2 separate regions of the Homo sapiens genome follow, and region 2 is linked to region 1. The links come from fine-mapping of genetic effects on gene expression. Tissue or cell type: monocytes. Region 1 holds a variant in brackets; the other region holds the start of a gene. All regions are shown on one strand. Distances are between the middles of the regions.

Region 1 (4,450 bases):
GCCTGAGAGACCCTTCCTCAGTCCCTTCCCTTGTGTGTCTTCTCCCTTGTTGGGGCCTCCCAGACCCCTACCTCTTCAGACCTTGACCTGTGGCCCAGCAGGCTGGGAGCAGGCATCTCTCCCCACCCCCAGCCTCCCTCTCCGGGCAGCTGCAGCCTTCACCTAATGGCGCCATTTCATGCTTTCCTGCTCGGGTGATTCTGACCAGACAGAGGAGTTCACTCTGTCCTGGGAGCCCTGGCACCCTGATCCATTTATCATCCTCAAGTCTTCCAGCTGGCTGCTCTCCCCGGGACTGCAGCTCCCAGCCATGCGGGAGGCGAGGCAGCTGTGAGTTCCCGATAATTTGGCTCTCCCTCACACCGTTCTCGCCGCCATTCCTCCCCAGCCATAGGAGCCCTGCCTCCTAGAGTGGGGGAAATAGTCCTGGAGGCGGAGGAGGCTGCTGGGCTGTGGAAGGAAGCACTGGACTAGGGGTCCAGGGATTTAGATTCTTCCTCCACCAAATGCCTGTGCGACCTTGGACAACTGGCTTCACTTCTCCAGGCCTCCAGGAGTCTTGGGTGGCATGCAGGGTATGAAAGGGCTCCTGCTGTTTTCCTTCTTTTTACATTTTTTTTCTCTGACTCTAGAAGGGACAGCAGAGCCAGGTGACAGGGGGTCACATCAGAAGGAGAGTCAGCTGAGGGAATCTTGGTCTCTCAGCTACTGGCGTGTCTCCCAGGGAAAATGGAAATGCAACCGAAGGGCAGCCTTGGAAAAATAAGCAGTGGTTCTCTACATGCTGAGCAGATGTGGGCTGTGGGAAGGACATGCGGTCTCTACCCATGCAACATCTCATTTAATCCCAGCCTCAACTCGAGGGTTTAGGAATAAAAGCTGCATTCAAATAGTTAAGAAGTCTGACACTCAGAGAGGTGAAAGAAACCACCCGAGGTGAAATGACTCATAAGGGGGTGCGTCTGACTCTCTATGGTCCCAGGCCTGCTGCAAGAGGAGAGGAAGGGTGGGCAGTTCCCAAAGCTGTGTGCAATGCCCCCACTTCCCATGCCAGCTTTGGGGTCTCGCTGTACACACACACACACACACACACACACACACTCACACCAGACCTTGGTTCCTTCCCAATCTATGCTTGGGTGGGTGTCCCTGGATATAGCCTGATGACAACTGAGTCTTAACATGGTTTGTGGAAAGAGCCCTGGGCCCAGAGCCAGCCTGTACTGCACGGGGGGACCCTGGGAAGGCCACTTCCCCACAGAATTCAGTGTCTTCTGTGAAATGACATAATGTGACCCAATCTCAAAGTCTGTCCTGCTTGATCATTTACAGACCCACATATTTATTGAATGTGGGCAGATTACTTGAGGTCAGGAGTTCGAGACCAGCCTGGCCAACATGGTGAAACCCCGTCTCTACAAAACTACAACAAATTAGCCAGGCGTGTGGTGGGCACCTGTAATCCCAGCTACTTGGGAGACTGAGGCAGGAGAATTGCTTGAACCTGGGAGGCAGAGGTTGCAGTGAGCCAAGATCGTGCCACTGCACTCCAGCCTGGCAGACAGCGAGACTCCATCTCAACAACAACAACAACAAAAAATGCGTAAACAAGTGAGCGTCCCAACAAAATTTTATTTACAAAAATTAGGTGGGGGACTGGATTTAGCCCCTGGACTGCCGTTGGCCAATGCCTGCACTAGAGCAACAGCAGTGAGTAAGACCAATGAGGTGGCTGCTTATACAGTCACAAGCTGCATGAGTACCATGGGGATGAGAATGGAGAGCTGGGAAAGCAGGTGGTTGAGGCCTTGATGCGGGGGTAGGGGAGGAGGGAGCCATGGGTGTGGGGAGGAAGGCGTTCTTGGAAGTACTGTTTGAGCTGAGAAAGATGTGTAGACTGTATTAGTCTGATCTTGCACTGCTATAAAGAAAAACCTAAGACTGGGCAATTTATAAAGAAAAGAGGTTTAATTGGCTCGAAGTTCCACAGGCTGTACAGAAAGCATGATGCTGGCATCTGCTCGGCTTCTGGAGAGGCCTCAGGAAACTTACAATCATGGGGGGAGGTGAAGAGGGAGCCAGCACTTCACATGGCCAGAGCAGGAGGAAGAGGCGAGGGAGTGGGGGTTGGGGGGTGCTACACACTTTTAAATGACCAGTCTCATGAGAACTCACTATCACTAGATCTGACCCTGTGATCCAATCACCTCTCACCAGGCCCCACCTCCAACATCAGGGATTACAATTTGACATGAGATTTGGGCAGGGACACAGATCCAAACTGTATCATAGGCTTTGGCTCCTTGAAGGGGGCACAGCATATACAAAGGCCCC[G/A]AAGAGGGTAATACAGTGTATTAGGGGAAACAAAAGAAGGAGTGTAGGCTGGTGTTAGCAACCCAGGGAGGGAAAGCTGAGGTGCTGCTGGATGGAGAGCATGAGGGGCTGTAGGCCACGCTAGGGCTTTCGGCCTGTCTCCCTGGGATGGCTTTTCATTTTTGGCGACATGACTGGCTTTGCATTTTATGAAGATTGCCTTGGTGGCAAATACGGAACTGACTGGAGGCGAGCAAGAGGAGACCCAGAAGATCAGGCAGCTATGTCGGGGGCCAGTTGACCTGTGGGCCTGGAGCTCGGAAGTGGCTTGACTCTGACAGAAGAGGATGGCACTGATGCCTGGGTGCAGAAGGAACCACGCAGGGAGACACCATGGCTGAGAAGGGAAGGACCTCAAGTGCAAGCCTGAGGCAACCGAAGGAGGAGTAGTCACAGTTATGACAAAAGCAGGCAGCGGCCAGCTGACCACAGCTCAGGGGTCCAGCTCAAGGAAAATGAAAATGCGCCCTGGGTTTAGTGACCTTGTGTTCATCATCCATGACTTTACAAAGAGCTACTTCAGCAGAGGGATGGGGCAGAAGCCACAATGGAGGGGCTGACGAGTGAGGTGGACGTGACGAAATGGGGACCATGTGTGCGTGTGTGTGCACGTGTGTATATGTGTGTGCATATGTGTATGTGTGTGCAAGTGTGTGTGCGTGGTCACGAAGGGGAGAACAAGGCAGCAGGTGGGGCTCATTTTTGGTGGGTGATGTGATAAACTGGACTGGTCCAGCCTCAGCTGAGGGAAGGGGGAAATGTTAGGCACAAGAAAGGGCAGGGATGGCAAAGACTTCCTGAGAAGTCAGGAGGGATCCTGCGCAGGAACGGGAACTGGCTTAACCAGAGGAAAAGCCCTCAACTCACAAGGGGTCAGGAGGAAAGGTCTGTGGTTTGACCCAAGGTTGGGACATTTTGAGAGATTTCTCGCTTCTGCTTTTCTTTAAAATAACAGCAAAGAGAGAGGAGGGGTGTGAGGGAGCCACAGGCCTGCGGAAACTGGAGGAGGAGGCGAAGCTGGTGGGGAGGCGTTTCCTGCAGTTTCTGTGCAGTGCAGAGGGCCTGGGTGATCCTGGGGATTGATGGGATACAGGCTGCCCTTGTACTGTGGGGGGATTTTCACCAGGGGGCTCAGCAGTCGGGGGTAGCCATGGAGAAGGAGAAAGCTGTCAGTGGGATTTCTCCAGGGCTGGCGCTTTGCCAGGTGAATACCACAGAAATGCCAAGGGAGTGTGGGGAATTGCGAACAAGTTGTAGGCACCACGGACCATGGTGGGAAAAGAAGACTAGAGGGGCTGATGGTGGCCCAGGGAGGTCAGGGAGACTTCTCCAGGAAGAGCATTCTAGGCTGAGGGAGAGTAAGTGCCAAGACTGTGGGATGGGGGTCTGTTTGGTGGGTTTGTGGCTGGTGGCAAGAGGCCAGCATGGCAGGAACTGCGTGACTGAGAGCAAGGACAGGAAATGCCTGTGGGAGCCAGCCAGGGGCCAGGCCAGGCAGGGATCTTATTCTAAATGTGACAAGAAGCCACAGGAGGGTTTTAAATAGATCAGTCTGGCTGCAGTGTGGAGATCAGGCTGAGTGGAGGGGAGTGGAAGCTTCCAGATAGGAGGCTACTGTGGTACTCCAGCTGGAGGGTGGAAAGTGGCCAGATTTGGAAGGCATTGTGGGTGGTTGATGAGTTTGCAGACACCTGGGATGTGGGGGGGTGACCCCACATGGATGGGAAGGATGACCCCAAGGCTTCTGGTCTCAGCACCTGGTGCCATGTACTGGGTGCATAACTGAGAGACGGGCCCTGAATCCACCCCATCCACTCTCTGGGCCCACTGCCCATGCCTGCCTTTGACATGAGCCTCCTCAGGCATCTTCTATTCCCTTGCTGTCTGGGCAGCTATGGCCTCCTGGTTTTGTTGGAGTCTGGAAAAGCTTCCAATCTGCTGCTGCTGCTTCATGGACTCCCCACATTCCCTCTCTGCAGCTCTAAGTCATTTTCCTCTGGTGGATTCCCCGGGAATGCCGTCTGTCTTTCATAAGAGCTCGGGGATGACATTTGTTATTGGCTGTTTTCAACTCTTT
Region 2 (4,000 bases), 270 kb before region 1:
CACTATTACACTTCCACACTATTTATTTGGGGATGGGCTGGGAGTGACAGTAGCCTAGTAGTTCAGCTACCTGATTACTGCCCCATTCTTTTAGAAGCACATGTCTGCCAAGGAGTGGTTTGTACTGCTGTGTTTGGTACATCTAGTCTTTTTTCTGCTATAAGTTTTCCTTACCTGTCCTTTAGTGTAGATTTTATTCATCACAGGACAGAATAATCAAGGACAACCAAAATCCTTTTGTTAGTTTCAGTACCTCAGCTATCAACATTTCTGAGCTACCATTCAATGTTCCTCTGTGTCATGGAGTGAAATTCTTGTTTTGTGGGTATTAGGAGTGTGGGAATGTGATAACCTAAACAACCTTTGCTCTGAAATTCCATTTTTCCCTCTTTCCCTGAGTTGTATTGACCTACAGAGTTAATTTCCTTTGTATTTTTTTAAGAAAATATTAAAAATCAACGGTCTCAAATGCCGAGAGTTTGTGGCTAACCAACATTGCCTTTAGTAGATATTTGGGAGGGAAAGATGTAGGGATCAGCCGTAGCTCCTGTCTCTTCAAGCTGTTCATCTTGTGTGTTTGCCAACTAGTTCCGCTATTTCTATGTTAGACACAGGTAAGAGGTAGCCACTTTACACTTTGGAGATTCTCATCAGTAAAATATTTACCTGATTTGCCATATTCATTAGCCCCTCTGACGCTTGGAGTTACTTGAAAAAGGAATACAGAAAAGATCTTGAATTCACTTAGCACGCGCTTGAATTTCAGGGTTTCAGTCACACCAGTCCTTTTTTCCATTTGCTTTGAATTGTGGCATGTGATATAAACAGCTATGCGGAAGGCCTGCAAAACTGAAACAGTCCTGATGCTTCCAGAGCAAAAGGAAGGAGGAGCCACATGAGGAAGTTATTTTCCTTAAAAGATGCCTACCAACTTTGGCAGATGGATTGTGCATGCTAATTAAACCAAAGCCTATAAAACGTGACTTTTCCTATCTCAGGAAGAGATCCAGGGGAGGGTGAAGGACTGATGGCTCCTATGCTGTCTTCAGTGCTGACTAATGAGTTTCAGACCAACTTCACAAATAGTTCATACACTGAAGCCACAATGGTATGTTCTACAGAAAAATCAACACGTAAAACAGCTCCTTTTTCACTCTTCACAATCGTACACACTTTCATGTGCTCACATACATACACAGAGATACCCCTAATTTGGTGGTTCATCTTATTTTTTTAAGCTCCCATAACTGGCAACCAGCTACTTAGTTATCTAACCTGGGAAAACCAGCAGTTGCTTTGTGTCACCCCCATCACAATACAGACATCCAGCTAGTTTCTAAGTTCTGTACAATTTTAATTGTTTCAAGTCCATTCCCATATCTTTGTTCCCTCTGCTAGCTTCAGGGCCTTTCTGAGCTAGACTGATGAGGTAATAGCTACCTGATACCTTACCTCTACTCTTTTTCCTCTCTTCAATCTAGCCCCTCTATTTATTCATAGGTTATCTTTCTGAAGCACAGATAGGATCATTACAGTGCTTAACATACAGCAGACAGTAAATATCGAACAGTTATTTCTGGCCTAAAATTCCACAGATTCCCATTGTTCATGTTATTAATGTTAAATTCCTTAGCATGACATTAAAGCCATGGAGCTCTGGGCCCACTCTGCCTTACCTACCTCTACTACCACTTCTCCCCACGTGTAATGTGGGTCAGCCACAGTGGTCTACTAACCATTCCTAAATTTGTTCTCACCCTTGTTCATATATAATACTGTTCTGTCTGAAATAATCTTGCTTTCCTGACAATCCTAGTTAATTAAGAGCAGTGGCTTTAGAGTTGTGCTGCAACCTTTCTGATCTTTACCTTTCTCATTTTGTGCACAAGCGTGCCGACCCCGTAAGGAAACTGATGATTTAGTAAGTTTCTAAAGGCGCTTTGACACATTTTGCCGCATAGTAAATGGTCACAATGAGTAGAAGAGACCAGCAATTAAAGTTTCCACGCATCTTTTTCCAATACCGAAAAGATACATGCCCCTCTAAGTAGTTTCCTATAGAAGAAGCTAATGTGGCTAAAACTTGATGGGAAGTCCGACCCAGATTCCCTTCATATTGCCCCCAATAATGTCCCCATTTATTCAGGAGACTAAATTCAGATCCCAGAAAACTAAACAGTAAGGTCAACCTAATGATTTGTCTAGGTTTTAAGTGAAGCCCAGTGGCCAGGTGGGTATGGAGATGTGTCACTGGTGCCAAGAAGTGTCCCTGTCACAAAGCCTGCCGACACCTAGCCACTTAGGTTAGGCAATGAATGAAGGCGCTTGCGCAGTAGAGTCCAGAGCGGGGAAGCGGGCGCCTGCGCAGAGACATAGTGACCGTCCGCTCGCCGCCCCGCCTCTGCCAAGCCGCGCCAGCGCAGTGAATAACGAGCCAGCAGAGACAGCGTCTGCGCAGCCGTGGCTGAGGAGCCTGTGGCGGCAGCGGCGATGGAACCAGCGGAGCAGCCGAGCGAGTTAGTGTCAGCCGAGGGCCGAAACCGGAAGGCGGTGCTGTGCCAGCGTTGCGGCTCCCGGGTGCTGCAGCCAGGGACCGCTCTCTTCTCTCGCCGACAGGTAGGGAGGCAGGTTGGAGGCCGTTTACACCCACAGTCTCCCCCGACGAGCCGCCGCAGTCAGAATCTGAACCCCGGCTCTTCAATTTCCGGCAACCGCGCCCTCCTCGCGCGGCCTTAAGCCCCGCCCCTCGGGCCTCAGCTCGGCGAGGCTCCGCCCCTGGGGCCGCTGAAGGCTAGGGAGGGAACCGGGTCCCGCCCCGGCATCTTTTGCCGCGGGAACCCTTCCCTGGGCCACCCGGCCCAGCCAGCCCGGCCCTCTGCCCCCGGGGGGGCTTCGAGCGCGGGCCGTGCGCCCCGCCGCCGTCCAAGGCCGGTGCTCCGCGGGCGCGTGGAAGGGAGGCGCCCCATTCCGGCTCTCGGAGCTCCCGCCAGCTTGCAGGACCCGGCAGGTGCCTCTCGGCCGCCGCTCACCGCGGGTGTTGCTGGGTTCCTTTCCCACTTTAGACCTCACCCGCCAGTCCTGAATTCACCGTCTCATTTATGACGGGCACCTATCTGCTCCACAGAGGATCCCCAGGAACAACTGGTGTTGGGGACGCGGCAAAATAACCCTGGTAACCTACCCACTTTACCGAGGCACTGGAAGCCTGTGGTTTTCCAGATGAATCATATTTCAAGTGCAGTAGATCCCTGACGTCCTGGAAGTAAATTTCGAAGAAAAACTTTTTTTTTCCCTTCAGTTTAGGGATTTTAATACCCTTCCTACCACCATCATCGCAAGTGAGAAAGTTGAAAAAAAAATTTATTTCGGTAAACTGTGTTGAAGTGCAAATATAATGTCATTTCAACCATAGACACATCCTATCATTCAAAATTATTTCTAAAAATATGCAGATCATTTTATTATTTCACGTGCTTGAACAGATGGTGAAGTGTAATGTCTAGTAGAAGAGCAAGAGGTACCCATTCGTCCAAAACAGCCTTTCATCAAAGGAGGAAAAAAGGGAATCTGTGTCTGTTGTTTTGTAGGTATTTTGATGACTTTTGATCTAGAGATTGGTGGAGGTCCCGGGGTTCTTTTAAGACTTCAAGGTTTAGGAGTAGAGTTCTCAATTAATTTTACGAAGTTAGTGGCATTATGGAGTCAGTGGAAAGAACATGGATCTTGGAATTGAAACATACATGGAATTGAGTCCTGACTATCATTCATTAACATTAAAACAGTTAGGCTGGGCGCGGTGGCTCATGCCTGTAATCCCAGCACTTTGGGAGGCCGAGGCGGGCGGAACACCTGAGGTCAGGAGTGTGAGACCAGCCTGGCCAACATGGCAAAACCCCATCTCTACTAAAAAAAAAAATACAAAAATTAGTTGGGGGTGGTGGCACAAGCCTGTAATCCCAGCTACTCGGGAGGCTGAGGCAGGAGAATCGCTTGAACCTGG

Evidence for each region. PIP is the estimated chance that this variant, and not a neighbour inherited with it, causes the effect.
Region 2: RABIF starts here. The variant in region 1 is fine-mapped to the expression of RABIF in monocytes (Quach 2016, PIP 0.95).

Annotation. Positions count from the first base shown.
Region 1 is chr1:202,615,052-202,619,501 of GRCh38, reverse strand. All of the region lies in intron 1 of SYT2 (synaptotagmin 2), which reads left to right. Among named protein-coding and RNA genes, the nearest start is that of SYT2, 93 kb to the left of the region's middle. The variant G/A (reference allele first, on the strand shown) is at 2,335.
Region 2 is chr1:202,887,589-202,891,588 of GRCh38, reverse strand. It overlaps RABIF (RAB interacting factor), which reads left to right and starts at 2,440. Exons shown (of 2, transcript NM_002871.5): 1 at 2,440-2,616. The coding sequence starts at 2,491. KLHL12 (kelch like family member 12) reads left to right here. Exons shown (of 12, transcript NM_021633.4): 12 at 1-469. RefSeq lists an enhancer at 2,405-2,674 and a silencer at 2,745-3,034.